2 linked regions of the Homo sapiens genome follow. The protein of the gene in region 2 interacts with the protein of the main gene of each other region in a biochemical or structural test. Each region holds a gene or a part of one and is shown on either strand. Other genes may lie near its edges.

Region 1 (3,653 bases), on a different chromosome or scaffold from region 2:
CGAGATCAGCCTGGCCAATATGGTGAAACCCTGTCTCTACTAAAAATACAAAAATTAGCCATGCCTGGTGGTGGGCGCCTGTAGTCCCAGCTACTTGGGAGGCTGAGGCAGGAGAATTGCTTGAACCCAGGAGGCAGAGGTTGCCGTGAGCTGAGATTGCACCACTGCACTCCAGCCTGGGTGACAGAGGGAGACTCGGTCTTAAAAAAAAAAAAAAAAAGGGTGGCCAGGTGTGGTGGCTCATGCCTGTAATCCCAGCACTTTGGGAGGCTGAGGCAGGCAGATCACCTGAGGTCAGCCTGGCCAACATGGTGAAACCCCGTCTGTACCAAAATTACAAAAAAAATTAGCTGGACATGGTGGCATGTGCCTGTAGTCTCAGCTACTCGGGAGGCTGAAGCAGGAGAATCGCTTGAACTCTTGATTGAACCCAGGAGGTGGAGGTTGTAGTGAGCTAAGATTATGCCACTGCACTCCAGCCTGGGTGAGAGCGAGACTCTGTCTAAAAACAAACAAACAAACAAAAAACTGCAGGCTATTTGTAACCTTGATTAGCCTCTTATAACCCCTGCACCCTGCAAAGCTATGGAGCACTTTTCAGACTCCAGGAGAAAAGGGAGATGCAGCAGCTAAGACACAGCAGCATCCCAGAGACACTGCCAGGCTGAAGGGCAGGATAAATGCACCCACTCAAAAGCATCTTAGTGCCAGGTGCTTTGTGCTACCTGGCAGATGTGGAGAGAGTGAGGTAGCCGACAACCCTGCCTGGATGAGCAAACTCAGCTGGGAAATGGGGCAGGGCTTAGGGTTCTGTAGTTGATGTCATACCTCCAGAAGGCAGGGTGCAGGTGCGGGGGCCAGTTCCCAAACCCTGAGCCCCGATAATACCACAGAATGTTACAGTCTGGAGGCCCCATCTTCAGTGTAACCACACAGAATGCCACTGCAACTCCATCCCGGGAATTCCCCATGGAATCTCAGGAAGGCCACACCTCCTGGGACATTACTTGGGATGTCATCGTGGCTCAGACTGCACTCTTGGGGACATCATGCACGATGCCAAATTCTGCACCCCCGGCCTCCAGTAATAGCACACTGAATGCTTTGGTGGCCCTGCCCACAGTAATATCACATGAGATGCAAAATTTCAGAGGTTCTAATAATGTCACCTAAAAAGGCTTGATGGCTGGCCCCTAGTGACATTAGCAGCCCCACCCCTAAAGATACCTCATGGAATGCCAGAGACTCTGGCTGTACCCTCTGTGACATCACATGGAATGGGCTGGCCCCTGCTAATATCACATAGAATGGCTTTATGACCTGACTCCCACCATACCATGTTGGAGGTCCCCAACCCCCATGACATCATGAGGAGTGCCATGCAGGCCTGGCCTTCAGGGACATCACAGGAAAGAGGAGGCTCCGGACCCCACCCCCTACAAGCTGTGGCTGGAAGTGTTCCTTGGCTTTGCCTCCCAAACATGCCCACCAGCCAGTCCTCTGGGCTTCTCTGGGCACATCCCAGTCACCTTCCTGGCTATAACCCAAGGACCAAGCCAGCTCCTAGTGTTGGCAGAAGCTAGATTCAGGCCAAGGCCCGAGAACCATCCTAGAAGGAGCCCAGAGAGGCTCTGGGGACAGTCCCTTGCCCCAGGTGCCAAGCCTGGGTGGGCCTCTGGCCAGGCTCTGGGCTTACAGACATGGGTGGAAGCTCCTGCCAGTCCCCTCACAGGGAAGCCCCTTCCAAACCAGGATGCCCTGCAGTCACCAGTCACCAGTGTCCAGCCCATTCCCAGATGGGCTCTGCAGATGCAGCCCAGGAACTGAGTTGTTTCTGCACGACCACATTACGGGTCACGGAAACACTGCCCTACACCACGTGGGTGATGACGGCAAGACCAGGACAGCCCTCTCCAATTGCTGTGAACCTGCCATTTCAGCCCTAGGGGCTGTGGTGCCCTCTTTTTTTTTTTTCTTTCTCTTTTTTTTTTTTTTTGAGACAGGGTCTTGCTCTGATGCCCAGGCTGGAGTGCAATGGCATCATCTCGGCTCACTGCAACCTCCGCCTCCTGGGTTCAAGCGATTCTTCTGCCTCAGTCTCCCCACAGTAGCTGAGACCACAAGCGCATGCCACCATGCCCGGCTAATTTTTGTATTTTTAGTAGAAAGGGGGTTTTACCATGTTGGCCAGGCTGGTCTTCAACTCCTGACCTCAAGTGATTGGCCTGCCTCAGCCTCCCAAAGTGCTGGGATTACAGACATGAGCCACCACACCCAGCCTGTGGTGCCCTCTTAAAATACTGGCCACCTTGTGCCCACAGCGCCCCTTCCCCTGCCCTGGAATCTGCAGAGACAGGAAAGGACAATATAGAAACAGACGTCTGGACTGCCAGGAAGCCACAGCATCTGCTTTGCAAAGTCCAGCTTGCCCTCCAGGCCCCGCAGGGGCATCTTAGAGCTACTTGAGATTTCTTAAAATACACATAGCCCTTACCCCCAGACTCATTGCCATAGCCTCTATTAATGACAGGAGTGTATTGCTGCCTTGAGTGTAGAGGTGAACAAAGTGTAAAAACCAACATCAGTGAAGGAAAGCAAAAGAGTTTTCTAGACTGAGAGGGGACTCCTGGGGGCAAGTTGAGCTGCCCAGCCAGGCCTGTCCTGCAGAAAATCAACTTTCCCTACTCCTCTATGTGATCCCCAACATTTTATTATAGACATTTTTGCAGATTTCTAGGCAGGAAAAGTAGAAAACATTCTAAAGTGTATACCTGAACACCCGCCACCATGGCTGTACCATAACATTTCACTCGCTTTGCTTTATCACACTCCATCCCTCCACATCCATCAATCCATCTCATTTGCCGGGCATTTCAAAGAAAGTTGCAGGTACCAGCATACTTCTTTCCAGGGCGAATTTTGCAATGTCTGTTCTGTCCTAGTGAACTGCCCATGGGGCTCCCCCACAGCAGGACACCCCCACAGCAAGGCTCTCTCACGGCAGGGCACCCCCAAATGCCCATCTACAGAGAAGGGGTCGTCCCCCTGCAGGGCTGGGTCATTGCAGACCCCACGCAGAAAGGCTGTGGCCTCGGTCACAGAGGAGATGCTGACAGGAAAGATGGGAGTTGTGTCCAGAAGATCATGATGACAGCATGAGCAAGGGCAACAGAATGATATCCAAGAGAGGCTGGGGCCAGATCAGAGGGGCCCTCTGCAGGGCTATCTGACTGTCCTCCCTCTGGAGCTGCCTCAGAGACATCTTTCTCCCACAGGCATGGGTCAGCGGGCACCAGCCCTCCCCACCAGGTCTCCTCACTTCCCCTCACCTAGACCTGCCTGGCTCTCCCTCATCCTCAGGTATGGGCCGGGGGGATGCTTGCTCCCAAGGGAGAGCTCAGCCTCCTGGGGTCTGGTCAGTAGCCAAGCCTCTGACCAGAGGGAAGTGGCTGAGCTGGATCCCCTGCCCAGTGCCTCTCCCCTGCAGCTGTGTCTGCTTGTCAGGGCTCAGCTGGCCTGGCCTTTGGCTGCCCTGAGTAGGGTCCAACATCCCTCAGGGTGGGGGCTGGGGGTGCTGATATCCTCCTCTAGGGAGGTGCTTCAGGCAGGATGGAGGCAGGGACCCTATGGATGATCAGGAGCCATCGGATGCC
Region 2 (3,653 bases):
CACATCTGTAAAATGTATTTCACTCTCTTATCTAAGACCTAGCTGATACCAACCTAGCTGATCAGTCTGGGACTTAAGGGAAGACTGAAGCAACTAAGCACAAACTGCTGAGCATATCGCAGAGGTTTTGTTATCATCTTCAATGTTTTCTTTCCTTAATAGTACTCAACACACTGAAAAACTACCCCCAAACAGCCACACACTGAATAAAAGTCATAGGCTCCATCATTCTCTAATCCTAACTTCATTTTTTCTTTGCACATAACATGACACTACCGGTGCCACTTTCTTCCTTGGAAGTCTAGAAAATGTGAAAATTGCCCACCTGAATTTCAAATCCAAATGTTTCATTATCCTGCTTCTCCACAGTAACAAGCTTTCTGTAATAAAAATGTTTAAAAAAGAAACTGCATGAAAATTAAAGTATCACATTTGGCACAGATCTATCATTAAAAATAACTGTCACAATTAAAAATAACTGACATTTATGTAAATTGTAGTATGTAAGATTCTGTGTGTGTGTCTGTGTGTGTGCGTCTGTGTGTGTGCGTAGAGAGAGAGAGAGAGAGAGAGGAAGAGAGAGGAAAAAACAGTCTGGAGAGCTATGTTCCTAAATATTTTGGGAGAGACAAAAAATAATTCAATCTCTTTACCTTTGAGACCAGGAAAAGTCACTTAAAGAACTTGATCTGGTCAAAGCAAGCTGAAAAACACAAAAGACATATAGTTATCCCAGGGTCTTCAAGATACACTGTAAAATGTTCTAAATCTCTCTCTCTCTCTCTCTCTCTCTCTCTCTCTCTCTCACACACACACACACACACACACACACACACACACACACACACACACACAACCTGTTCTTTACCACCTTCTTTGGCCCAGCTCCTGGGAAATTGTTGCATAAAGGCAGCCATTTCCATTCTCTACATTCTCTAGTGATAGCAGAGGAGAGTAGGGAGACAGGATTCTAGGCATTCCAGTTAAAAGATTGAAAGAGGTTTAGATAGTAATACAATGTGGCAAAAGAGTTAAAATAATGTGGCAAAACTCCAAAGCTTCCAAAGAGAACTTCCTCTCTGGTCTGTATTTAAAACAGCCTCTGAAAGATTAACCATAGCAATTTGTAATCACACTGAAATCCAAAGAAAAATAGCATACTTAGAATGGCATATGAAACCCAAATACTTTATAGTTTTTGGAGATGATGATGAAATGACAGTGTTTACTATAATAATTCAATACGTTACTGTTTTTAGTAGGATAAAATAATCTCTAAACAACCAACTCACACACACAATTCAGGTAAAACCAGGAACTCAAAACCTCATTTCTGCTTATGATTTATTTTTGTAATAGTTTTGGAAGACTAACGTGAAATTTCCAGCCAAGAAAGGAAAGAAACCTCAGAATAGTATCAATGGTATAAATAATATCACCTTCATTCCTCTGCACTTTTGGAAAAGATCATATAAACATAAGCTTTCAGGACACATTCTACCACTGTAAACAGAAGCAGCATCAACAAAAGGTGACAACTTATTTTTTAGGAAAATTGCAGCAGGTTTTTGTGTTTTTTTGGTCGGTTTGTTTCTTTGTTCAGGAAATGTTTATTAGCCCTATTCTCAAATGTTGCTTCAAGGGCCCAAAACATAAGCTACTAGCTAACCCATGGTTTTTAATTGTCAACCTGAAATGGTTGTCATATATAAATGAACACATAAAATATCAAGAGATCAATGCATAGTCAGTCCAGACAAAGCAAAATAAAATAAGTAAAGGATGAAAACTAGAAGGGGGAAAATATGTAGGAGATATTAATGCTTATGTGACAAGTTACACAAATGAAATGCTTATTAAGACATTCATTAGGAGTGAAGCCTACATCACTGTAGGAATTTTGAATTACCAGGTACCAAATGCCAGCATTTTCACAAATTTCCTGGAATGGACCAGTGTTAAGAATTCAGCCACCAGTCCATAAACTTAACGTAATGGAGAGGTGGTCTCTTCTTACCAATTTGCTGTAAATTAATTATATTTTCCTCTTTTGTTAGTTCTGGGCTTCAACTCACTTATATCGCAATGGAGACTGAAATAAATTGCTCAGACCCAAAAAGATTCTCTAGTCTTGCTAAAAAGTATCTCTTTTCAATTTATAAGCACTAACTGTGGAATGCCTACAAGGATTGGTATGGTTTGTTGTAACCTGATTTTGTACCTCGTATGTACCGTTACCAAGGATAGGGACTATTCATCTATGTTAGTGGGCTTCCTTGCAGAAGAGAGCCACAAACTTGATATTTCCAAGCATTCTCAGTCTCTCCCTTATATTGTACTCATATTTTCTTAATCTATTTTTATTATCTTCAGCTGCTTGTTTTCCGCCCTTAAGCCAAATTACGTAATGATAACTAGGGCTTTTTTATTCTTTTTATAAAAGTTTCTTATACCTCTATAAATAAGGGCTTATATTTTTAAGGTATTACTCTTGCTATCAGTATTCATCATATTATTCATATATCCATATAGAGAGAGCTATATATATATGTATACATATATGTATATATTTATATGAAATGCATACTGGATCAAATACTTCACATCTGTACATAATCATCTGTGTGATTTGGACCTCTTGGGGAATGTTATTTGTTTTACTTTCTGCCCCAATGCCCAACACAGGGCCTGGAATAGAATGGAAACTTAAAAATGGAGAAATAGATAAAAATAAATAAACTACTAAACGAAAATGGAAGCAACTGAGATGGTTGAAGAGCCACATTAAATATTCACGTTCAGGAGAAATATGTAAAGATAGTCTTCAACATTGTCCTTTATTAAATTCAATATCATAGGAAAAACTCAAGGATAATCACTAAAATACATAAAGTAAAATTTAAAAATCTTAAATATGTAGCAAGATTTAAAAATGAAAGAAAACAGACAACTGTATATCCATATGCAGAAGAAAGAAACTAGACCATACCTCTCACTCTATACAGAAATCAACTGAAAATAAGTAAATGGATCAAAACCTTCATGTAAAACCTGAGACAATAAAACTACTGGAATAAAACATAGGGGAAAGGCTTTAGCATATTGGATTGGGAAAAAATTTTATGAATAAGACCTTCAAAAAACAGGCAACAAAAGCAAAAATAAACTAATGGGGTTATATTAAACTAAAAAGATTCTGCACAGCAAACAATTAACAGAGTGAAAAGACTACCTGTGGAATGGAAGGAAATATTTGCAAACTACTCATTTATATATCCAGAATATATAATGAACTAAAATACCTCAACAGAAAAAAAAAAATTTAAAAATGGGCAAATGATCTGAACAGACGTTCCTCAAAGGAAGCTATACAAGACTGGGCATGGTGGCTCACACCTGTAATCCCAGCACTTTGGGAGGCCAAGGAGGGTGGATCAACTGAGCTCAGGAGTTCAAGATCAGCCTGGCCAACATGGTAAAACCCCGTCTCTACAAAAATACAAAAATTAGCCAGGCATGATGGCAGGTGCCTGTAATCCCAGATACTAGGGAAGCTGAGTTGGAAGAATCGCTTCAACCCGGGCGGCGGAGGTTGCAGTGAGCTGAGATCATGCCATTGCACTCCAGCCTGGCGACAGAGTGAGACTCCATCT

Evidence for each region. The genes of interacting proteins can lie anywhere in the genome.
Region 1: the proteins of CYTIP (region 2) and LDB3 interact in a test that uses a peptide from one of them, tested with the Homo sapiens proteins (one large-scale study listed by IntAct).

What each region holds. Positions count from the first base shown.
Region 1 is NC_000010.11:86,674,908-86,678,560, reverse strand, and holds part of LDB3 (LIM domain-binding protein 3), read right to left. Parts: intron 1-3,653. UniProt on the Homo sapiens protein: May function as an adapter in striated muscle to couple protein kinase C-mediated signaling via its LIM domains to the cytoskeleton.
Region 2 is NC_000002.12:157,434,045-157,437,697, forward strand, and holds part of CYTIP (cytohesin-interacting protein), read right to left. Parts: intron 704-3,653; coding exon 654-703; intron 381-653; coding exon 326-380; intron 1-325. UniProt on the Homo sapiens protein: By its binding to cytohesin-1 (CYTH1), it modifies activation of ARFs by CYTH1 and its precise function may be to sequester CYTH1 in the cytoplasm.